Regions from separate parts of the Homo sapiens genome. Here all the other regions are linked to region 4. Evidence: fine-mapped expression QTL. A gene starts in region 4. Each other region holds a variant in brackets. All regions are shown on one strand. Distances are between the middles of the regions.

Region 1 (4,089 bases), 130 kb before region 4:
CAAAATCTAATTTTCAGAGAAAAAAAAAATCTGGGTAGATGAATTCAAACTAATGTGTAAAACAAAGTATTTTCCATGACACGGTTTCATCCAGCAGTCCTTGGTATTTATTGTTCATTCCCTCCTTCCATTTTTGAATCTAGAGATTGTCTAAAAAATTTCAAGCATTTTCATAGTGGTTCCATTCTGTGAATAATCTTTAAAGGATACTGGTGGTAATGAGCAGGGCAATAAATTAGGTGTTTGTACGTCAGAGATCCATAGTAACCCAGTTTGGCCTGCAAACTATGAAATTATTACACAAATGTGGAGATTTGGCTTTAAATGTTTGCATTTAAAATTGTAAGCAGTGAGTAGCAAAAATCTAACCTCTAGCATTCTAAAACCAGAACTCTTAAATAACCTTTCCTTATTTCATCACTGTCCTTATAGAAGTTGATGGTCACAGTGATGATACTAAGACATGTCAGAAATGCAAGGCACATTCTCGGCAAAGAGCCATGGTTTTGTTCAGTTGGTATTGTGCCATAAAGAGCCCTTGGCTTGAAAGGACCCAAGGGCTCACCGTGTGGTTTTAGCCAGATGTTAATTAAGCTGGATGGCACCTAAGATCCCTTCTAGTTTAAACAGGCTATGATTATAGTTTTTATAATCAATCAAATTTTCCTTTCCTGTCTTTAAAAATAAATTCTTCAAAATGAATAATACCTGTATGGGTGTATATGAAAGTTCTGGGTTAAATATGTGGGTTAACCATTCCTTCACCACTCCTAATAATAGTCTTACCATATTCATAATTCCTTAGAAAAGTACTTCCTATAAAAATTGGTCCCTTGTGTGTGAAAATAATAAATGAAGCAATATATTTGAGAACTGTGCTTCTCAGCTCTTGTAATACTCAGCCTCCTTAATAAATATTAATGTTGTTACCTCGCCTGCACTCCATCCTCCTCTACATTAGGAAAGACAGTGGTTAAGAACTCTTATTAGCCTGGGCAAGATGGTGAGACCTTATCTCTACAAAAATTTAAAAAGTAGCTGGGTATGGTGGTGCACACTTGTGGTCCCAGCTATACGAGAGGCTGAGGCAGGAGGATCACTTGAGCCCAGGAGGTAGAGGCTGCAGTGACCGTGATCATGCCACTGCACTCCAGCCTGGGTGACAGAGTGAGACCCTGTCTCAAAATGAAACAAAAAAAGAACTCTTATTAGCCCTCAGACCTCTGTCTGCTACTTCTCTAATCAATGGTTTCTTTTTTTAAAGATGTAAAATAGAATAATAGTATGTTGTTAAAGATTGCTGAAGAGATAGTAAGATCATACCTGTTAAGTTAGTGATTATAATTCTGTCATTATCTTGTACTTTCCCAGCCACACACATTTAGTTTTATTTTCTGTGAGTTTAATTTAAATAATTTTTTTCTAAAATATGATTTATTACTAATTCTTTTTTAAACTACACATGCTTTCTCCATCCCCCTCCCCGCCACCCTCCCTTCCCCCGGCCATTGAGAATCACATCTTTCCAAGAAATAGTCCAGCCCCTATGGAAGTCTGGTTTTTGTTCTTATTGGGTCTATAAACCTTGAGTTGTGAAGATACCTGTTGTTTCATACATAGTATGATGTTTTACATTTCTTTGTAATATCTGACAGGCTGGCTATAAGAAAAAATTATGGAAAAAGACACCTGCAAGGAAGAAGCGATTGAGGGAATTTGTATTCTGCAATAAAACCCAGAGTAAACTCTTAGATAAAATGACGACGTCCTTCTGGAAGAGGCGAAACTGGTACGTTGATGATCCTTATCAGAAGTATCATGATCGAACAAACCTGAAAGTATAGATCAGAAGTTTCACTTGTTTCTCAGTTATTGGATATGTATCTTTGTGTACATATCTTTGCAAAAATGGATAAGTACAAAACTTGATGTAAATTGTACCAATGAATACGTAAACATACAGTGACAACATTAAACTTAGAAAAGTTTTAAAACTTAATGGATCAGACTTTGCCAGATTTGGTTAGGGAAACAGAAATTTAGAATGGTGCATTATTTTTAACAAATGGTATTGGCTTAACTAGTTGTTTCAGTTATGCTCTTTTAGTTGCAAGGAATCTCAAGTGGGACAAACATAAAAAGACTCAAAAGCTACAAGTTAGCTCAAGCAATGTGACATTATTTCAAGGATATGTGCC[A/G]GGGAATTCAGGAACCACCTCACCAACCCCATCTCCCACTCAGAAATCACCTCCCAGCCTCAGGAAGAGTAGAAATTGGGTGGTGCTCCTCAGCAGGGGAAGGTGGATGTTTAGGCTTGGGCTCTGCATGCATGTGACTTGCTTCTTTTTGCATTGTTAACTCCATTCTCTCTATTCACCAACTTCTCTACACAGCTTTTGCATACTTACAGTTTCTGTTCCTTTGTAATAACTTTAACTTGCACCTTTGAGGTTCTTTTCTACATGATGACCTTCAGCTCCTGCTGCTAGTCTCCAATTGCCAAGGGAATTTAACTGGGCCAGACTACCTTTTTATACTAGGTCTGGTTGGGTCATTGTCTAGAGTAGGGATTGGCTGTCCTTAAGTCAGGAGCCCGCTTTGTATTAGCAGGTTTGCATGCAGCAAAAAAACAGTTATGTGAGCAGTTTCACTTGGAGGTTCACATGGGGTGGCAGCACACTTAACATCTAACACACCAGGTTCATTGTGTTCATAACACTTGTCATTTACTGTAACAACATTTTTTCATAGGAGAGTAAATAGCCCTTCAGCATGCTCATTCATGAAACAGAAGAGGCTGTACAAGTGAAGACAAGGGCTTTTTATGCAAGTTTTGAAAGATAGGTATTTATTTTTTCTAGAGACAGGAGTTTTGCTCTGTTGCCCAGGCTGGAGTGCAGTGGTGCAATCATAGCTCATTGAAGCCTCGCACTCCTGGGCTCAAGTGGTCCTCCTGCCTCAGCTTACTGAGTAAGGATATGTATTTCTTAAAAGTTAGTTTATCCACTTCAGATTTCATGTTTTCATTTGTAAGGATAAACTTTTCCCACAAATTTTCAACAATCATTGTAGAAACTAAGGGGGAGAAAGTAATCTCAGTTGTTTTAGAAACGAAAAAGTTAAGCATTGTTTACTTGAAGTGGGCAGGGAAGCAGCACTGAGTAAAGTTCAATTGAGTGGTTACAGTCTAGGGCAGTGGTTCCCAACTCTCCGATCAGAATCATCTGGGAAGCATTTTCAAACAGCAAAGTACTTTGAAAACCATTATTAAATAGAATTATGCATGAATTACTGTTTCAGATCCTTTAATGTGGTAGTTGGTAATAATAAGATGAAATTCCTCTGTTGTTAGTAAAATTATGAAATTGAAGTTCTGCAGCATGTCAGGCCAGGATTATTAGGGAGATTCCTCGAAACTAGTGTGTGTTTATTAAAAGGAGAAAGGATAACAATAGAATGTTCTAAAACCAGAAGTCCAAGTGCGTGTCTACTTATGGGACCAATAAATAAAGAACAGACATTTGATTTGAGGTGAGGTAAAAGCCTGAAACATGGAATGGCATTCTGTTTTGATGGATTTTCATTTCTTCGCACTTCTGAGACGGCAAAGCCAACCACTTAGAAGCCTTCCACATCTTTGTCACCTGCCTGGCTCCTGCTCTCTGATGTACCTCTGGGTAGTGAGATGGAAATGGTGCCTGCAGAAGTTGGGGAGAAGGATACTTTTGCACAGCCTCCATGATGTCTTTATTGCAAATATGGATGACAAGGGTCTCTGTTACAGGGGCCTCAGAGCACCTTCGTTTCTCCTCTAGACCAGGGACAGGTGTAGAGATAAGGACTGGCAACCAGAGCCTCAGCATCCAAAGATGGACTGAAGTGGGATGGCTGACAGGCACATAACTTACGGGAAAGGGAATTTCATACATACGATTTTTGTTTTGTGGGTAGGAGGGCTTATCATCAACACTGATTTTATAATCTGACAATAAATGTCTTTCATTAAAGAGTTTACCTAAATGATGTTCGATTATATGTATAATTTATAAAATATTTATGTATAGTTTGTTTATTCAGGTATATGTATAA
Region 2 (4,089 bases), 25 kb before region 4:
CTAGATGGGTAGCAGGCGGTACCACCTAGGTTTGTGTAAGTACACTCTATGATGTTCACACAATGAAAAAATCATCTAGTGACACAGTTCTCAGAACATACCCCTATTATTAAGCAATGCATAACTGTATATAGACATATCATCACCTTCTAGGGGCCAGAGCATGCTTTCCACCCTAAAGATCAAGATTCTCCTTCAAGTCAACCTTCAACCTTTCTAATCTTTCCTAGATGAGGAAAATTATCCTCCATCATTACTTCTCTCTCCTCCCCTTTCTCTCTCTCTCTCTCTCTCTGTGTATGTGTGTGTGTGTATGTGTAGTAATAACAATGTACGGTGTATAGAGGATAAAAGGAAGCAAAAGACAGGCTGTGTGCCTTCAAAGGACTATGATATAAACTTAAGAGGCAAGACATAAACACTGGTGAAGTTAAAAGAAACAAATCTATGAGTTAAGAAATACAAAAACACACATGATACCTCTGGACAGCTATGTAGGTCATTGTCCAATAATTGGTGCTAGCAGTGTGTGCTTTGAGGTGGCAGAACAAAGAATCTACTTCAGTCTAGAAGGGTCTAGGGAAGAAAAAGTAGATAGATACAGCTAAGGGAGGGAGGAGAGATGGCACTCTGGAGAGGGTAGTGATGATTCAAGCCAATTCACGGAAATCAGGAATAGTCATAGGAACTGAAGTTCCCCTAGGACTAAATTATGGGGTGACTGAACACCAATGCAAACTTCTAGATGGAATTATTAAAATAATTGTGAGCACTAGAAAGGAAAGAGAAAAATACCGGGAGCCTGCACCAGTCCTGCCAGGTTCTGCCCGCATGGTGCCAGGCTGCCCTTATTTCCTCCTGCAACAGGGGGGCCAGCAGGGGCCGATGGGTTTTTAAAGGTAGTGGACACTGCATTAGTTTCCTAGGGCTGCAGTAACAAAGTACCATAAATTTCCTAGCTTAAAACAACAGAAATTGTTTCTCTCATCATTCTGCAGTCTAGAAGTCTAAAATCAAAGTATCATGAGGGCCACGTTCCCTCTGGAGGATCTAGGGGAGGATTTTCCTTGCCTTTTCCTAGGTTCTCACAGCTGCTGTCAATCCCTGGAGTTCCTCGGCCTGGACGGGCATCACTCCAATCTGGCTCAATTGTCACACAGTATTCTGCATGTCTCAATCTGTGTCCAGATTTTCTTTTTATAAGGATACCAATCACTGGATTGGGACTAACCCTAATCCAGTATGAACTCATCCCAACTTGATTACATTTGCAAAGACTCTATTTCCAAATAAGGTCACATTCTAAGGTTCCAGGTGGACATGAATTTTGGAGAGACATTATTCAACCCAATGTAGACACTGAGTATCTGTCACCCCTATGTGCTGGCCTTAGAAGCTACCTGCCATGTAAGATCCCGTTCTACCATCCTGCACTGGCAGTGACTTGATGCACAGCTATCACAGAGGTCACCAATGGAGGAGTCCCTGTGCTGGGACAAGACGGAACTAGATGACTTCTAAAATTCCTTCTGATTTGCACATGTGTGGTTCAAGTCCTGCCGATTGTTCCCATTCTACTGATTTGCCAATGCAGCCCTCTCTT[T/C]TCATTCTCACCGCCAAGACTCGGGTTCAGCCCTTGTTGCTTCCAACTTGACACAGACACACTGCTTTCACATCACTCCTCCTGACAAACCCTCACCAGCTCACCCCTGCCTGAAAGCAAAGTTCTGTATTTTGACCTCAACATCTACCTTTACCACCTGAACTCCTAAGATGACACTAATTTTCAGGCCAGTCTGGTCCTTCAAGTGGCACAATCTCACCATCACACATAACTTCATACTGGCTGCAGAAGGGAATCCAAACTGTGTTTGGAAGACCATTTACTCCCCTTCCATGCACCCTCCCTGGACCAGCCAGTCCAGCCCACAGCACTTCTGCGTTTCAACGATTCTTCCTGCTTGCAGAAGCACTGGACCCTAATCTCATTGCCCTGCACTATAAATGATCCATTCATGGAGATGGGGCTGCAGCAACACTTAGGCAAAGACAACACAAGAGCTGTAAAATCAGACAGATTTGAATTTGCTTCACGGCTCTAATATGTAATGTTTAAGAACTGAACAACAGGAGTTTGAGGCTGCAGTGAGTGCTGATCATGCCACTGCACTCCAGCCTGGATGACAAAGTGAGACCCTGTCTCCAAAAAAAGAAAAAAGAGCTGGGCAAATTCCTTACCCTTTCTAAACCTCTGATTGCTTATCTGTAAAATGGAAATAATAGTACCTACCCCATGGGGCTACAGTCAGGGTTAAGAGAAATAATGTATGCAGACTTTCAATGCAACATCTGACATAAAGCATACTTGTAAATTATGTGTCAACAAACATACTTATTTTTATTATGGTAAATGGATCTAAGTTTTGCCTTTAGGTCTGGGAATCAAGGCACAGATCCTGTGTTCCTCTGGCACCTAGCAGCACACTGCCAATGACTACTCAGAGTGACAGACATCAGTTCAGACGGGAACCCCAGAGAGCATTTAGCTACCATCCTTCTTCTTCTGCTTTTTTTTTCTTTTTTAGTGTGAACAGCCAATTTTGCTTAAAATTCTGGGACACAGAGCAAGTTTATATCACAGAAAAGCAAATGGATTAAAAGAATATCAGAAATTATTTTATTTTCTTTTATTCTGAGACAGAGTCTTGCTCCGTCACCCAGGCTGGAGTGCAGTGGCACAATCACAGCTCACTGCAGCCTCAACCACCTGGGCTCAAGTGATCCTCCCGCCTCAGGCTCCCTACACCCTGAGTAGCTGGGACTACAGGCATGTACCACCATGCCTGGCTGGTTTTTCTTTTCTTTTCTTTTTTTTTTTTTTGGTGTGTAGAGACAAGGTCTTGCTATGTTACTAAGGCTAGAGATCCTTTTAAAATGTCTTTCTGCTAAGTTGTTGGGCCATCACCTCTCCTTTGTTTCCTTCTCCTCTCCCAGCTTCTCTGGATTCCATCTGTTTCTTATACTGAGAAGTTTGCTACCTAGCTAGCCCTCAACCTCTTTGTTTTATGAATGGAAAGGCTGGGACCCAGACAGGGCAAGTGACTCACCCAGTGTCACAGAGCTGTTAAATGGCAGAGCCATGATTGAATCGGGCCATGACTACTTTCCTACATGACATATTGAAACCAGTTTGAGCCTCGGTTTCCTCTCTGGCAAAACAGAGATACTAATGCCCACCTCCCCAGTTTGCTTTGAAAATACAGAATCAAGGGCCAGGCCAGTGATGGAAAAGACCAGGTGTGAGATGAGACATGGTCACCACCACAGCCTGCAGTAACTGGGCCAGGTGGGGCTAGGCAGATCAGGGAGCACAGGCCCTGGGAGCAGCCACCCCTCAGCTTGGCTGATGCTGCCCTGATGGAATCATCCTGCAGTGCCAGATCTTCTGACTCTTCAAGAGAAGCCCAAAATTTGAATTTTGGTGCCACATCTCTCTATTTAAGTAGATTCAAATTTAAAACACCACAAGCTAAACAAGCAACATGCAGGCTGATTTCAGCCAGGAGCCACCACGTTTGTGACTTTGTATCCAACCACAGATGTGAAGCCATTTGCAAACTGCCAAGTAGCAGACTAATGGGAAGAAAAGGCTGACCCACAGTGACTGGAATGATCTATCTACCCAGGAAGCTTCTGCAAATTCTCCCGGGAGCAGTGCTCCCACCTGAGTGACTTCACCAAGCCCCACAGTGCCTTACCTCCTGCCAGGAAGGCCACAACCACAGCTGATCTCATCCTGCTGCCAGCCCAGTGGCAGCAGCTTGGATGCCTGGCTGTCAGCTGAGAAATTTGCCCATGCCCTATAGGGAAACCACCTCCCCACCTGGAGTCTCATTAAACTGGATGAGTTGCCTCCAGGAACATGCTGAGCCTCAGTCTCACCCTGGAAGGCACTGCAGGGCTGGGCTGGCTCAGACTGACCTCAGAGTTTGGATCCCAGCCTCTCTTGAGCTAAGGCAGGCCCAGGTGGGGTGAGCAGGCTGGCTGGGGTGAGCCAGCTAGGACAGGAGGCCTAGCGACAGGGCTAGA
Region 3 (4,089 bases), 110 kb before region 4:
TTTAAGATATCTCCACACATTCTTTGATACTCCTCCCTTCAAGAGGTGGAGATTAATTCTCCTCCCCTTGAATGTGGGCTGTGCTTAATGACTTGCTTCCAACAAATAGAATAAGGCAGAAGTGATGAGTGTGACTTCAAAACCTAGGACAGAAAAGGTACCCTGGCTTCCTGCCTGCCCTCTATCTCTTGAATGGCTCACTCTAGGCCAGGCCACCTGCCACGTTGTAAGGACTCTTAAGCAGCCTTGGAGAGGCCCAGCCAACAGCCATAAGAGTGCCATCTTGAAAGTGGACCCTCCAGTTTCGTCAAGCCCTCCGATAACTCAGCCCAGGCTGACATCTTGACTGCAGCCTCTTGAGAGACCCTGAGCTAGAACCACCCAGTTAAGCTGCTCCCAGATTTCTAGCCCACAGGAACTGTAAGCTACTGTGTTTGCTGTTATAAAGGGTTAACCTCCTGACCCCTCCCTATGACCATGCAGCTGAAAGGGAGCCCCAGGGTCAGGTGCCCACTCCTGGTTAGAAGCTCTTTCCGAGTGAGAGTCCAGCACGCTGCGGAGAGGCTGGCTGCTTACTCACCTTTCCAGGTCCTGCAGGTGGAGCAGCAGGTACACACTGTGGGAATGGGGTAGGGGCACCATCAGTGACATCCCCCACTGGACAGGAACCAGCCCCGGGCAAACAGGGAGGCCCTGGAGAGGTGTGGGGATCCCAGTGTGTACAATATAGGGATCCCAGGAAGGTGGGTCTCTGTAGAGACACCAAAGTGGGGAAAGAGTCATCTCAGATTCAGTTTCTGCTCAGGTGCAGAAGATACCCTCACCTGGCACACAAAGTCAGTCCTTGCACCCTGCAGCCCTAGGGAAGGCCGGAGACAGAGTCAAAGTTCCCTCTGGAAAATAACTCCAAGCACCCCTGCCCAAAGCCTCCTCCTCTCTTTGCTTTCCAGTTCAGAATGTCCTCCAGGAAACCTCCCCAGACTTACCTCTGAACCCCAAAGTGCTTCGCATCTGGGCATTTGCAAAGGCCTAACTGGCTGCTGCCTTGTACACGCCATTGGTCTTGGTGCACATCTGGGCCTTGGCAATAGAGTAGGTGCTCACTAAATACATGCTCACTGAGTGACTCCAAGTCCATGGAAGGCCAGGATCATTCTTTCAACATTTCTTGTACACTTCCTGGTGTCCAGTGCTAGGCATTCAGCATATGGTATCTGACTACACACCTTCCAGCTCATTCTGCAGGGAGGGCCATGTCAGTCCCTGCCTGCCCTGACCCTTTAAGCAAAGAGGAAAACTCCAGGCAAGAGAGAGGGTCAGGCCAAGTACACTGCCCAGCCCCATCCTGGGTGCTGAAAGCAACAGGAAAGAACTCTCCTTCCCCTTCTCCAACGCCTAGACCCTGTGTCCTCACTGCACATACAGAGGTCTCTGTGTGCCAGGCATGTGGTGAGTATGTTGGGTAGGCATTTACAGAGGGAAGCACAGAACCCTTGTCTGCCTGCCAGGAGCTTGCAGCGCTGAGTGACCGTGCAGGGACAGTCTTTGTGCCCCTTCCTCCCTTCCTCGTTTGTGTGCATCTTCCT[C/T]CCTTTTCTCAAGATGCAGGAGGTCACATGGATGTCCCTTCTTGGCTCACAGCAAATGGTCCACACTGGTTCATGGGATCCCCTTCACTTTTTTTTTTTTTTTTAATGAGACAGAGTTTCACTCTTGTTGCCCAGGCTGGAGTGCAATGGCATGATCTCAGCTCACCGCAACCTCTGCCTCCCGGGTTCAAGCAATTCTCCAGCCTCAGCCTCCCGAGTAGCTGGGATTACAGGCACCCGCCTTCACGCCCAGCTAATTTTGTATTTTTAGTAGAGACAGGGTTTCTCTGTGTTGGTCAGGCTGGTCTCAAACTCTCTACCTCAGGTGATCCACCCGCCTTGGCCTCCCAAAGTGCTGGGATTACAGGCGTGAGTCACCGCGCCTGGCAACCCTTTTTATGTGCCTTTACATGACTTTTATTCCCACACCCCACTCACATTCTCCTTCCTCCTCAAGGAGTGTCACTTTTAATATTTTAATGTGCAACTTTTTGTTTGAACATGTTCTTCATATAAACTCCGTATTGTTACTTTGCATGATAGGCATATATTTTTTACATAAATTGTTAGATAAAATCTCATTCTGTTTTGCACTTTTCTTCACCTGGCATCATGCTTTCAAGTTCCACTGTGTGCACCCTTAATCTGTTGCTTCCAGCAGCTGCAGAGAATTCCACGAGGTGCAGCTCCCACCTCTCTCCAGGTTGTCTTCAACCCCTGCCACCTGTCCAGGGTTTGCAAATTCTCTGGTTTGCTCTCCTCACAACCCTAAGACATAGGCTGAATAGGGACTATTCGGTCTTTTTTACAAAGAAGAAAGCCTGAGGGAATCAGGTCTGTCCTCTGTGCCAAGGCCAAATCTATGGTAGCGACTGCCTGGGTTGTTCTGAGAGAAGTTCTGAGGCTGAATTGAGGCTCAGGAGGAAGGAGCATGCCTTGCTGTGCTGCATTTGCTGTGTCTGCACAGGCCCGGCATCACCCAGCCAGGATGAAGTCTAGCCTCTTCCCCTTTTCTGGGGCCCTTTCTGCTACCTGATCTGGCCTGGCATCTGAGGCCCACACTGGGGGCTGAGCTGGGGAGAGTACACCAGCCCGGTATAAATTGGCTTCCTCTGCCAGACTTCCTCCTAGGCATGTTGACCTTACTTCAGGGTATGATAGCCCAAGAGCCTCTGACCCAGGAAATTCTGCCCCATATCCACGCCCCAGGCCATCTTTCACCTGTCTTCCTTTTTTTTTTTTTTTTTTTTTTTTTTTAAAGATGGAGTTTCACTCTTGTTGCCCAGACTGGAGTGCAATGGTGCAATCTCATCTCACTGCAACCTCCGCCTCCCCGATTCAAGCGATTCTCCTGCCTCAGCTACTCCATGAGTAGCTGGGATTACAGGCATGCACCACCACGCCTGGCTAATTTTGTGTTTTTAGTAGAGACGGGGTTTCTCCATGTTGGTCAGGCTGGTCTTGAACTCCCGACCTCTGGTGATCCACCCTCCTCAGCCTCCCAAAGTGCTGGGATTACAGGCGTGAACCACTACACCCAGCTCCTGTCTTCCTTTTTGAGATGGCTTTTATTTTAGGCTCCAGAACAGCTGGAAAGAGCACTACACTGTCCTTGGCCTCCCTGCTGGGTTGCACCTTTCCTCTTTGCCCCCTGTGGTCATAGGTGCGGAGGCCAAGGGGGCCAGCAGTGAGGAGGGCTGGGGCATAATGCAGCACAGCTGGTCCTCTCAGCCTGGGACAGCCAGAACACTCCCCACTGCCTCCCTGGGGCATGGCAGGGGACGTCATCACCTCTGCTCATGGAGAGTGGCAGAGCCAGTGCCAAAGCAAATCATCCCAAATGCTTTTCTACCTGATGCTGGGCTGGGAAGATACTCCAGGCCCAGAAGACACTGCCATCTCCCTGCAGACCCTGCCAGCTTCTTGCATTCCCAGTTCTGAGGCTGCCCTGAATAATTCACCAGGGGAGGTCTAGGCAGGAGGCCTGGATTCTGGGCCTGGGGGCCTCAGCCCAGTGCACAACCTCTCTGAGCCTGCTTCCTCCACTGGGCTCACCTCTAAAATGGCAACACAGACTCTTAGAGGCAAAGGGACGCCAGGGCCACCTAAGCCCGCTTCCTAGCCAAAGCAGGAATCCCTCCCTCGAACCTGACCATCCAGCTTTGGCTTGTGTCCTTCCAATGTCAGGGACCTCACTACCTCCCAAGATGGCCCATTTTGCTCCTGGACACTTGCAGCATGACAATGCGCCTTCTCAGGAGAGACAAATTACAAAAAGAACAATGATAACAGCTACTATGCACTGGCGCCAGGCATGGCCATAAGCACTTTCACATGGCTGGTTTCATTTGAAGCCTCACAACAACTCTACAAAGGGGTGTCATTCCTTGTGTAGATAAGAAATCTAGGGTGCAGAGATGGTAAATAGCTCGCCCGGGTCATGCGGCGAGCAAGTGGCTACCCCCTTCGAACTTCACCCCACTGGTTCTTGCTCTCTGCCCTC
Region 4 (4,089 bases):
TTTGGACTTGATAGTGGAAGTAACAATCCCAAATCCCATCAACTCTCCTTGGGCCACATAATGCTGTTCATTTAAATTCTCTGAAGTCTCGGTTCTAGGGAGTGTGGTTGTTTTAGAAAGCAACAGCACATCCCTGAGACACCTCCCAAATATATGCCTCTCCTCTCCACCCCCATCAGTTGCTCATTGTAAAAAAGGGGGAGGAGCCGGGCGTGGTAGCTCACGCCTGTAATCCCAGAACTTTGGGAGGCCGAAGCGGGCGGATCACTAGGTCAGGAGTTCAAGACCAGGCTGGCCAACATGGTGAAACCCCGTCTCTACTAAAAATACAAAAATTAGCTGGGCGTGGTGGCAGGCGCTTGTAATCCCAGCTACTCGGGAGGCTGAGGCAGGAGAATCGCTTGAACCCAGGAGGCGGAGGCTTCAGTGAGCCGAGACTGTGCCACTGCACTCTCCAGCCTGGGCGACAGAGCGAGACTCGGTCTCAAAAAAAAAAAAAAAAAAAGGGCAGGGGTGAGGGAGGTGCTAATAAAACTAATGATAGTCACATGACCCAGTGCTAATAAAACTAATGATAGTCACATGACCCAGGATCAGATGCCCTCACTCCCAGCCCAGCAGGACCTACAGAGAGCCCACCAGCCAGGCCAGCTCAACTCTCCAGCCCCACCCTGAGGGCTTCCCAGAAGCCACTGGCAATATCGATCCCAGAGAGGAAACACCACCCTGAAGGCAAGACAGTGTTGGTCAGGCATGAGGCTGGGCAAGGCGTGTCAGCCACTTTCCTGTATTATTCATGTCGGCTCTGCCAGCAGAAATCTTCTAAATATTTAACATGCCACCTCAAGGTGCAGCGCAAACACCCCGCAGTCAGGAACAGCTGTGGAGAGGCCTTCACGGAATGACTTGGGGGCTGAGAGGCACAGACACTGGCTTTGGGAGGAAAGCCCTGAATGGTGGCGGGAGACAATGCTGAGATCCACTTCGGAAGGGAAAATCAGTAAAGAAGGGAAGGGAGATGGGTGGTGTTTCAAAACGTGGGGAGTGATGGTGCACAATCACTGGGGTCCAGAGCCCCGTGTTCTCAGACAAAGAAAAAGCCCGAGGTGCCTGCCACCCTCCTCCCCGCCTTAGACTCCCCACACCCATTTCAGCCCCTGCTAGCTACAGCAGGTGGCAAATCTGTTCTGACTCAGGCCAGGATGGTTAGGGAAGAACAGGGACTTGGAACAGCCACGTCTATCTCCAAAGGAGAATAAATCCACCGGGGAAGCTCTTCAAACGCCTACAGGTCCTGGGGCTTGAAGGAGAAAATCGGCCCCCACGCCCACCCCCAATGACTTCACACAGACCTCACCCTAGATGACTCTGCGCTCTCCTGCAAGGCCTGGGAGGTGTCATCGCCACCATGCGGGTGGCTGTCACTTGAAAATTTCCCGTGCATTCCTGGAGGTACCTGCCCCTGTCTCTCAATCCCCTGCAAAAGGAGTCGGAGCCGGGGGCTCCAGGCGTTTACTCCAAGATTCACATGCGTCTTCCCATGTCCCAGCTGCCTTTGCCGCTGTCGATGCAGACACCTAAAAAGGAGGATTTTTCCAACCCCACTGGGAGCCCCGCCTCTGCCTCTCCACCCGTTCCGCGCTGACCCTCCAGGCAGCGCCCCTGGTTCGTCTGCGCTGTCCTTTCCACCTGACAAAAGCTGGGGCGGCGGGGCGCGGCGCCGGGCGACCTCACATTTCTGCCAAAGGAGAGAGACGCGTGTCCGCGGTGCGCCCATTCGGGGCCTCTGCAAATCGACCGAGCTGAGGAACAAAGCGGCCAGCGCGCGGCGAGACGCAGCCCCCACGGAACCCCCGAGCGCCCCAGCCCTCGCCGTCCCGGCCCAGCCCCCCGCAAGCGGCCGCCGGCGCCGGCTGCCTCCTGGGCAGCAGCCGCGTCCTGCGCCGCCCGTCCGCCCGCAGGCGTCCTCGGCGGCTACTGTACCTGCTAAATTTAGCTGCGCCGGGTATTAATAGCCCGAGCCACTGGGACCGGGCGCTGTAGGGGCGCGCGCAGCCCGGGGCCGGGGGCGGGGAGGGAGGGGACGGAGGGGCGCGGGGGAGAAGGCCACTTACACCACCAGCCTGGAGATGATCCATGACACCATGGCGGGCAGGCGGGCGGGCGAGGCCCGGGCGGCGCGGCTCGGCTAGGCTGCGGGCGGCGCGGGCTGCTGCGGCGTTCCCGGAACGTCAGTCAGCTCACGGCAGCCGCCGCCAGACTGAGCGCGCCCGCCGCCCTGCCCGGCGTTCGCGCGTTGGCGCAGCCGCGGCACGTTCTGGCGGCGGCGGCGGCGGCCCCAGCCCCCCGGGGCTCGGCGGGCCCGCAGCGATTGGGCGGTGAGCTGGTCAGGGCACCCGCGGGCCCGCCCCGTCCCGCTCGCCCTGGCCCCCGGCTGAAGGCGGGCGCGTCCTGCGCGCTCCCCGGGGCACCGGCCCCGCCAAAGGAACCCTGCAGCGGCCCCGTTTGCAGGGCAGGGACCCGGGTGCTGCCCCACCCTCAGCGTTCCAGCGGAGAAACTGAAGTCCGAACCTGAACCTCGGGAATCTGTCTGCACCTGTCTAGGTGGGATGCTGTCATCCCTCATTCAGCTAGTGCGTTAGCCTCATAAAGGGTTTACCTGGATCCAGACCTAACCTCTTCAGTCTGTCCGTTGCTCAGCACTTTCTGCATAAGAAACAAACCTGGGCGCTTGCCTCCCTACTTAAAATTCTACAGAGTCCCTATATGATCGTGGTACCTGCCTAGAACCGTGTTGCCAAGACCATTCCCCCAAATAGTCCTCTAGCTCTTTTCCCTCCAGGCATCTTGGACTCAAATATTTGCTGTTTCTTCTTCCCTGTCAGTACACGCCACGCCTCATCGTCCTGCCTTGGTTTGATTCAGCTCCTTCTTCTAGGCTGGGCTGAAGGGCTACTTCTTCCTAGGGAAGGCCTTTCCTTGGGGGCTGCTCCGGGCCCTAGGAGGAGACTAGAAGCTGCGACTGCTTAGCACCAGTGCCCCGCTGAGCCACGTTGAACTCTTAGGCAAAAGGGAACTTGTGCACCCTATATAAACGTTTTTATGTATTTTTTAAAATACCGTATTAAATATTATGGTGGTTTTTTTTGTTGTTGTTGTTTTTTTATGAGACAGAGTCTCGCTCTGGGGTGCAGTGGCGCGATCTCGGCTCACTGCAAGCTCCGCCTCCCGGGTTCAAGCGATTCTTCTGCCTCAGCCTCATGAGTAGCTGAGATTACAGGAGTGCGCCACCACGCCCAGCTAATTTTTGTATTTTTAGTAGAGACGGGGTTTCACCATGTTGTCCAGGCTGGTCTCAAACTCCTGACCTCGTGATCCGCCCGCCTTGGCCTCCCAAAGTGCTGGGATTACAGGAGTGAGCCACCTATTATGTATTTTAGTTGCTGAATTTTATGGCACCTCTTAAATGTTGCACCCTCACTGAGCGCCTCACTCTGCTCACCCTAGTCCCGGCCGCAGATAGTACATTATTCTGTTACACTGGAAACGCTTTGTCCTCTACTCCTAGGCTCTGCTGCTGCTTTTCCCACCCTCCAATAGCTTAGGTTCTGCGTGGTGCTCCCAGCGCCCTGTCCTTTGCTGATGATGGTGTCATGTATAATTCAGTGTCAGATGTGAGAAGCGCAGGAGACAGCTTAGTACTCTCAGATGTAGCAGAATCTGTGCGTGCGTGTGCCTGATATAGTCAGAAGAAAGACTTCACGGACAACAAAGGGACTGCAGATGAGACATGCTCTCATATCTCAGGTCTCCAAAGAACCCATAAAATAGCTGTAATGTAGCAGTTTTTTCATGCTGCCTTGACCCAGTTTTGAGGCTCAGGCTGGAGGCTGGTCAGTTCCCCTTCTCCAGCAGTCTATTAACTGCATACCCCCAACCACTTCCGTTAGCAGGCTCTCACACGCGGGACACTATACACCTGTCCAGGGCTAGGCACCAAACAACTAGTTACAGCCCCTGTACTTCAGAACCCGCTGAAATTATCCAAATTAGCCTATCCTATATCTGCTTGCCTTATTTCACTCTTTC
Region 5 (4,089 bases), 100 kb before region 4:
AACCTGAGAGTGGGAGGAGACTGGGGAAATTGAGAATCGGCTAGGATTTGGAGCAAGAAGTGACAGGCAAGTAACTACCAGGCAAATGAATGAACTCAGACATCTTCAGAAAGAAGAAAGCCTGGAGGGTGTGCAGGGTTCCCTCGGGTGCATGGCACTGCAGTGGCATGGGAGAGGTTTTCTATGCCACTTGGATAATGAAGGAAAGAGTGGTCCCAGAGATCTGGGGGACAGGGGGACAATACTGCACAACAGACATAACAGAACCAACAAATCAGCACAAAATCAATTCAAGCCGCTGACAAGAGGGCTGCTGGTGGGATTGATGAAATAAGCAAGGGCCAAAACAGTTGAGTAAGAGGTTTTCAGGGGTGAGAGAAGGGTTTGGAAGATTTTTTTCATTTTACTTAATATAAAAAATAATGAAAATGAACCAACAAAGCACAGCAATTCGCTGAAGTGAAAAATCCAGATAGGATCAAGGAGCAGACGCAAAATGAGTTCATTAGAGGGGAGGGGGAAAAAAAGGGGCTTGCAGTCAGGTTTAGAAGAAACGCCAGAAGAGGGCAGGCGTGGTGGCTCATGCCTGTAATCCCAGTACTTTGGGAGGCTGAGGCAGGAGGATTGCTTGAGTCCAGGAGTTCGAGACCAGCCTGGGCAACAAGCGAGACCCTGTATCTACAAAAAATTTTAAAAACTAGCTGGGCATGGTGGTATATGTCTGTAGTTCCGGCTACTCGGGACACTGAGGTGGGAGGACCGCCTGAGCCCAAGAGGTAGAGCCTGCAGTGAGCCGGGATCATACCACTGCACTCTAGTCTGGGCAACAGAGTGAGGCCCTGTCTCAAAAAAATAAAAAGAAAGAAAGAAGTGCCAGACTAAAAGCAAGATGCACTAAAATATGAACTAGATCTGTTCCCAACCTACCAAAGATATAAAAACCATGTCACCAGGAAACCAACAACAATAACACAAAGAAAACTATTTAAAAAGAATTGTAAGTCCAGGCCAAGAAGTATTTGGAGGATATTATATGAAAAAAGACAGAAATCACCCTGGTTGCCTCAGACACTGCTCTAGAGTGATGGTTGGGCAAGGGTCCAAGGTCTCACGTCCTTGGCAGGAACAGCTGGGTGGTCTCTGCCAGCAAAATGGAGGCTGGACCAGCCAGACACCCATTATATAACCCCTTCAAATATAGCAGCCAATGATCCATGATTATTTTACGCAGAAACATTCTAGGCAGCATCTAGAATTTAGAAGAAATTTGATGACTAAGGAACAAAACTTGATTCTGAAATGAGTGAGAAAATATTCTGCTAATTATAAGTGAGTAACTCAATGTTAGGTTAGTGTTCAAGCAAACTGTTCACTGACTCACTCTTTCATTCATCCTCTCATTTCTTCGTTTACTTTACTTGTTCAACAATTACCAAGTACTTTTTATGGGCAAGAACATGGTGCTAGGTGCTAACATGAAACACCAAAAATACAGTTTGATTTCTGAGAAAGCGGAGAACGACAAATGTACAGATACAACACAGAAGTATCCTAGCAGAAGCTACAGAAAGTGAAGATTGAGAACAGCAGTTCTTGAGTCAGGCCTTGATTCAAATTCCAGCCCTGTCATTCAACAGCTGAGTGATCTTAACCTCTCTCCACCTCAAGACCTTCATTTGCAGAAGAGGATCCAAATGGCCGGCTGCTCGTGCGGATTCAATGAGATTACATCCTTAAGATACCCATCACATAGCCCATTGCATATTTAGTCTTCAAAAATGTCAACTATGATGATAATGATGTTGATGCTGTGGCTACTGCCTAAGATACAAAGGTTGCTATTGAAAGCTATTGAAAGCTGCCTAAGACACAAAGGTTGCTATTGAAAGCAGAGGTGGAAAAGGTCACTTCCTAAGCTTCATGACCCCAAGCCCAAATAAACGGCCAGGGAC[G/A]AATTCCCTCAACACAGTTTGCCAGTTCTTGCTCATTGTCGCTCAGCAACATATGTGAGAGAAAGCAACAGCAGGCATCGTACACGTTCATTTTAGCAAAGTGCTCCATTCAACTCCCAGAAGCCAGCCAGTCTAGCTCCAATATCACACTGGCAGTGGCAGAGGTTAGGAAAGAGAGGGAGATAATAATAGCTCAGTATCAACCTAGGCCTGTGTCAGAGGAAATTATAGTGGCATAGATACAAGACTCCTGAAAACAAATTAGCCCTTGCCCATCAAAACACTCTGAGATGGTTAAAATCAGTATGCCTGACCGGGCGCGGTGGTTCACGCCTGTAATCCCAGCACTTTGGGAGGCCGAGGCAGGTGGATCACTTGAGGTCAGGAGTTTGAGACCAGGCTGACCAACATGGTGAAACCCCATCTCTACTAAAAATATAAAATTAGCCAGGCGTGGTGGTGCACGCCTGTAATCTCAGCTACTTGGGAGGCTGAGGCAGGAGAATCTTTTGAACCCGGGAGGTGGAGGTTGCAGTGAGCCAAGATCATGCCATTGCACTCCAGCCTGGGCAACAAGAGCAAAAACTTCATCTCAAAAAAAAAAAAAATCAACATGCCTCTCTCTTTTGTAAACCTTTCAGCCCTTCTCAGTCTCTACACAAAATCTCATTCCTATTCACTTTCCACAAACCCCATTCCACACTGTCTGTTCAGCTCCGCTCTGCAGAATCTTTGTTATTCTAGACCATTGTCTTCTGGGAAGAACCACGAGTTGTTCATTGGTATTCTGCAAAATTGGTTTCCCTACTTTGGGGAAATAAATTTGGATTCTCTAAATTTGGAAAGCATTAATACCATATTCCCCATAATTCCATGAGCCACATTATCATACTAAAAGCTCTGAGAAGGCCCATCTGGTGGTGCATGCCTGCAATCCCAGCACTTTGGAGGATGAGGGGGGAGGATTTCTGGAGCCCAGGAGTTCAAGACCAGCCCGGGCAACATAGGTAGATCCCGTTTCTATTTTTAAAATTTAAAAAGACATCGCTAAGTCACCAGAATAATAATGACAACACCCACCTACTCCTAGACTTCTTGAAAATGATTTTCATCAATTTTTTTTTTTTTTTCGAGATGGAGTCTCACTCTGTCGCCCAGGCTGGAGTGCAGTGGTGCAATCTCGGCTCACTGCAACTCCGCCTCCCGCGTTCACGCATTCTCTTGCCTCAACCTCCAGAGTAGCTGGGACAACAGGTGCCCGCCACCACGCCTGGCTAATTTTTTGTATTTTTAGTAGAGACGGGGTTTCACCGTGTTAGCCAGGATGGTCTCGATCTCCTGACCTCGTAATCCGCCCGCCTTGGCCTCCCAAAGTGCTGGGATTACAGGCGTGAGCCACCGCGCCCAGCAGATTTTCATCAATTTTAAGACGTATTTTTCATCTCTGAAATTGGGGTGGGTCTTACAATTGCTGCCGCCCTGACATCATTGTCAACGCCTACACATAGATATACTTGGTTGTTATTCTCCCTGGCATAACTGGACAACTGAAGCCCCTGAGTGTTTAATTAACAAACCATTTAAGAACTGTTTGAGAAAGGAATATGAATCTCAGTTGTCTAACACATATCTCACTGACACTTTCTGGTATGATCAAGAAAGTGGCAGCATCAAAACTGGCATGAATGAAAATCCCAGAAACAACAGCTCGACATCACCCAACACACTAGAAGGAACAGAGAATGATATGGCATGGTCATAAGTGGATACTGACACGCCGAGCTGAAAAGTGATTCGGGAGACTCTGAAAGTGAAAAAGTGAGGTTAGAGAGATCTTAACCACTTATTGTGCTAATGCGTTCCTTTTTATTTTCTTTCTCTCTTTTTGTTTTTTCTGTTGTTGTTGTTGTTTGTTTGAGATGGAGTTTCACTCTTGTCAGCCAGGCTGGAGTGCAATGGCACAATCTTGGCTCACTGCAACCTCTGCCTCCCAGGTTCAAAAGATTCTTCTGTCTCAGACTCCTGAGTAGCTGGGATCACAGGTGGCCACCACCACGCCCGGCTAATTTTTGTATTTTTAGTAGAGACGGGGTTTCACCTTATTGGTCAGGCTGGTCTCGAACTCCTGACCTCAGGT
Region 6 (4,089 bases), 190 kb before region 4:
TGCTGAATTAACTTGTGGGTAGAGACCAACATTTTAACAAGTCACTAGAACGATATATCCCCAATTATAAATACATGTGGCACTTTGGCTTGTATATTACTCTTTTGAGTCTGAGCAGCAGGAATCAATTCACCAAAACCTTCAAAGGCAAAAAGCAGGCTGTGGACTTCTGGTGACGCAATTCACAGCCTGGAAACTGTGAGCTAGAAGTTCCTACTTCTGCTGTTGTTGTTTCTCAAGGATATTTTCTGTACATACAACAAACTAGAATTTTTTTTTTTTGAGACGGAGTTTTGCTCTTGTTGCCCAGGCTGGAGTGCGATGGTGCGATCCTGACTCACTGCAACCTCCACCTCCCAGGTTCAAGCGATTCTCCTGCCTCAGCCTCCCGAGTAGCTGGGATTACAGGCATTCGCCACCACGCCCAGCTTAATTTTGTATTTTTAGTAGAGATGGGTTTCTCCATGTTGGTCAGGCTGGTCTCGAACTCCCAACCTCAGGTGATCCACCCGCCTCAGCCTCCCAAAGTGCTGGGATTACAGGCGTGAGCTACTGCACCTGGCCAGAACTGTACTTTTTGAAAAGGGATAAGATACTCAGTTTTCATCTTGTTGCTTTATTCAGTTTGCTCCGAGGGCAAAATCAACAGTAGTAGAGATCACAAACATTATTTTGATTGGCCTCACAAGCCTCATCAGTAAAACCTGAAAAAACAGAAAATGTTACACAAGTTGCAAAGAAAGCACTCCTGGCGTTCACTGACATGATAGCAAATGGAAAGAATATAAATGCAACAGGTGTTAACATTTAGAACAGTACTTGTAAACCTGCTCATTTCTAGACAAGTCCGGGACTCTCGCTGCGAACCCTTCATCTATCACTGCTGATTTCCTTTGACATGAAATATGACTTTATGAAAATCTTCCTAAACCTCACTCTGGCTGCACCTGAGTGGTTCCTATTCCTACGGCGCTGGCATATGCTGTCAGGATTTCCACTATCTGTTTCGTTTCTAGGGTCATTCGGGCTTCCTTCAGCCAGTCCTGTGCCACTCGTCTGGATTCCCCCTTCAGCTGATTGACAAACTTTGCTGCTAGCTCCAGATCACCATGCTCAATGCAATAGGAAGCATATGACAGTAATTTAAATGTGTTTATATCCTCAGGGCAGAGCTCTGGGGGCGGCTTCAGTTGCTGAGGTGGGAATAGGAGCAGGGACTGTAGGTAGGAGAGGAAGTACTGGTACAAGCTATTTCTGGTTTCATCAATCATTGCTACCCTTCGGGCCAGTTTTTGAACAGCATAGAAACGGGCTCTAAGGGTCTCTTCACTGTACACCCCACGGGTCAGGGACTCTGGAGGGATAGCTGCGGTTAAAGCTTGGGTGAATTCATTATCAGAACAGTTGGCTTTGATGGCCTCAACTGCACTACCCAGCGGGATAGTAGGTGTTTCTGCAGATGAGGTCTTCATGCTGTACTTTAATGCCTCCACTGAAAGCCAGAGTTGGTGGGCTTTTCTGGCTTCCTCTTCAGCAACTGCATGGCCTACAAAGAAAAAAAGGCAAAGCCAAACATTTTTCTCTCCATCTGACAACATACATCCACAGAACTGATGCACATTCAACAAGCTACATCTACACATGTGCAAGATGAGGCCAGAGAGACTTTCTTACAACCCCACCCCCACCACTTATTTCTGGTGTATTTTCCTAGCTGGCCTCTTCATATCAAAGTCAGAAGTCATTCACATCTGCATGATATCTAATCCACATATTTTTACCTTTACTAGTTGAGAAAGAAACATATTATTTAAATTAGGCTAAGACTTAACGCTAAGGCCATGAGAAATTTTCTGCAAAGAAATGGGAGACTTCAGGGCCAGGCACAATGGCTCATGCCTGTAATCCCAGCAATTTGGGAGGCCGAGG[T/TG]GGGTGGATCACTTGTGGTCAGGAGTTCAGGACTAGCCTGGCCAACATGGTGAAACCCTGTGTCTACTAAAAATACAAAACCTAGCCAGGCGTGGTGGCACGCACCTGTATTCCCAGCTACTCAGGAGTCTGAGGCAGGAGAATCGCTTGAACCCAGGAGGCGGAGGCTGCAGTGAGTCGATATCACACCACTGCACTCTACCCTGGGCGACAGAGCAAGACTCTGTCTCAAAAAAAAAAAAAAAAAAAAAAAAGAAATGGGAGACTTCAAACGAACTTAACAGACTACTGGATCTTGAAATTCCATGAGTATTGAATTTATTTTTATTGTTATGTGACAAAAAAAGATTCCATAACATCCTAAAAAAACCCATTTTATTAATACCCTCATTGTCATGACATTTCTCTTTCAATGTGGCACATGGAGGCCTCAGCATAAATACTGTCCATTTGGTAGTTGGACTCGGCAAATCACCACCTCCAGATAACCCACCAAGTCTGTGGAAGGCAAGCATGGGACCACACTGACCCCTAGCCCTTACCACCCAGGCACATGCGACATAGCCAAAGGATACTGGGTAAATAGCCTTGTAAATGGTGATTTTGTGTTTGTCATACAAGGTATAAATTTCTAGTTATATAGATTTTGCCATTACTTTTAATGGCAAAAACTGCAATTAAGTAGAGTGATTAGTATTTTTATGTCCTGATGTCAGTACATGTACCCCATTTTCCCTATAAAATTATTTTGATAAATTATGCTGAGGAAAATTATCTGTAAGATAAACATAGCTTATGCTTACTCTGAACAGCCTGTTCGATTCCTCTGAGTCTGGCATAGGCAGTATTTATATCCAGAGTAAAGTTGTCAACTTGCTCTTGACTGAGACGACGAAATTGTAATTCTTGTTCAGAGAGTTTCTCAGACAGGTTCTGAAATAAAACAGAAATAGTTCCAGAAAAAAGTGATACTCAATGCATGTCATGTAACTGTGTAATCTTCCAGCAACTACTTGCTGAAGCAAAGAGGGCCTTAGAGTTGTCACGAAATTCCTACATTTTGTGTAAAGTTTCAAAAATGTCCTGACTCATATTTGATGTATATAATATATTTTTTTTTTTTTTGAGATGGAATCTTGCTTTATTGCCAGGTTGGAGTGCAGTGGCACAATCTTGGCTCACTGCAACCTCCGCCTCCCAGATTCAAGTGATTCTCCTGCCTCAGCCTCCCAAGTAGCTGGGATTACAGGCATGCATCACCATGCCAATTATTGTATTTTTAGTAGAGATGGGTTTCACCATGTTGGCCAGGATGGTCTCGATCTCTTAACCTCGTGATCCGCCCACCTCGGCCTCCCAAAGTGCTGGGATTACAGGCGTGAGCCACCGTGCCCGGCCGATGTATATAATTCTTTACAGGTTTACTGATGGAACCTAATATTAGAGGAGGCATACCAAGAGAAGAGAGAAGGCTGTTAAAGTCAGAAACAAACTGCCAACTGTATTTTATTTTTGAGACAGAATCTTGCTCTGTCATCCAGGCTGGAGTGCAGTGGCACAACCTCAGCTCACTGCAACCTCCACCTCCCAGATTCAAACGATTCTCATGCCTCAGCCTCCGGAGTGGCTGGGATTACATGCATGCACCACCATGCCCAGGTAATTTTTGTATTTTTAATAGAGACAGGGTTTCGCCATGTTGGGCAGGCTGGTCTTGAACTCTTGTCCTCAAGCGATCCACCCGCCTCAGCCTCCCAAATTGCTGGGATTATAGGTGTTAGCCACTGTGCTCAGCCACAAATTGTCAGCTTTAGAAAGTAAATTATCTGTACTGCAAACCTAAACATAATAATTAGATTAAATTATATTCTAATATCTTGTATTTAAGAGCTTATACATTAATTTTTCTCAGAAAAATATCCAAATAGAATTTAAAATACCTTTTCATACTGACATACATCGCGATTCTCTGGAAGATTTTACTTAGAAAACCTCAATATCTTCTTGCAAGACAAAGTAACAAGTTAATATTACTGTAAATGATTTCTTGAATAGAAACTATGATTACAGGCATCCTGATAATTTACTGGGATTTCAAAACTTCTCTGGGAAATTACCTCAGTTATAAAAATCTAAGCAGTACCATGCCATCTATAGGAG

Alleles and levels. Positions count from the first base shown, and alleles are read on the strand shown. Sizes are in standard deviations (SD) of each study's normalised expression. Not every link is listed here.
As copies of G replace A in region 1, the expression in lung of the gene that starts at base 2,262 in region 4 goes down (small effect, 0.34 SD a copy in GTEx).
For the expression in unexposed skin of the gene that starts at base 2,262 in region 4, T is the low allele of the variant in region 2 and C is the other (small effect, 0.32 SD a copy in GTEx).
For the expression in cerebellum of the gene that starts at base 2,262 in region 4, C is the low allele of the variant in region 3 and T is the other (small effect, 0.37 SD a copy in GTEx).
As copies of G replace A in region 5, the expression in cerebellar hemisphere of the gene that starts at base 2,262 in region 4 goes down (small effect, 0.31 SD a copy in GTEx).

Evidence for each region. PIP is the estimated chance that this variant, and not a neighbour inherited with it, causes the effect.
Region 1: its variant is the best candidate, but not a certain one, in a credible set for the expression of REEP1 in lung (GTEx, PIP 0.58).
Region 2: its variant is the best candidate, but not a certain one, in a credible set for the expression of REEP1 in unexposed skin (GTEx, PIP 0.64).
Region 3: its variant is the best candidate, but not a certain one, in a credible set for the expression of REEP1 in cerebellum (GTEx, PIP 0.73).
Region 5: its variant is the best candidate, but not a certain one, in a credible set for the expression of REEP1 in cerebellar hemisphere (GTEx, PIP 0.67).
Region 6: its variant is the best candidate, but not a certain one, in a credible set for the expression of REEP1 in whole blood (INTERVAL, PIP 0.71).

The regions. Positions count from the first base shown.
Region 1 is chr2:86,208,825-86,212,913 of GRCh38, forward strand. It overlaps MRPL35 (mitochondrial ribosomal protein L35), which reads left to right. Exons shown (of 4, transcript NM_016622.4): 4 at 1,656-4,089. The coding sequence ends at 1,844. Among named protein-coding and RNA genes, the nearest start is that of MRPL35, 11 kb to the left of the region's middle. The variant A/G (reference allele first, on the strand shown) is at 2,199.
Region 2 is chr2:86,310,434-86,314,522 of GRCh38, forward strand. All of the region lies in intron 1 of REEP1 (receptor accessory protein 1), which reads right to left. Among named protein-coding and RNA genes, the nearest start is that of REEP1, 25 kb to the right of the region's middle. The variant T/C (reference allele first, on the strand shown) is at 1,604.
Region 3 is chr2:86,226,783-86,230,871 of GRCh38, forward strand. It overlaps REEP1 (receptor accessory protein 1), which reads right to left. Exons shown (of 9, transcript NM_001371279.1): 7 at 581-616. Among named protein-coding and RNA genes, the nearest start is that of MRPL35, 29 kb to the left of the region's middle. RefSeq lists an enhancer at 3,930-4,089. The variant C/T (reference allele first, on the strand shown) is at 1,587.
Region 4 is chr2:86,335,365-86,339,453 of GRCh38, forward strand. REEP1 (receptor accessory protein 1) reads right to left here and starts at 2,262. Exons shown (of 9, transcript NM_001371279.1): 1 at 2,115-2,262. The coding sequence starts at 2,146.
Region 5 is chr2:86,233,672-86,237,760 of GRCh38, forward strand. The region is part of intron 5 of REEP1 (receptor accessory protein 1); the gene reads right to left. Among named protein-coding and RNA genes, the nearest start is that of MRPL35, 36 kb to the left of the region's middle. RefSeq lists a silencer at 1,795-2,089. The variant G/A (reference allele first, on the strand shown) is at 1,953.
Region 6 is chr2:86,143,336-86,147,424 of GRCh38, forward strand. IMMT (inner membrane mitochondrial protein) reads right to left here. Exons shown (of 15, transcript NM_006839.3): 14 at 2,733-2,862; 15 at 601-1,546. The coding sequence ends at 933. Among named protein-coding and RNA genes, the nearest start is that of SNORD94, 9.5 kb to the left of the region's middle. RefSeq lists a silencer at 677-877. The variant T/TG (reference allele first, on the strand shown) is at 1,930.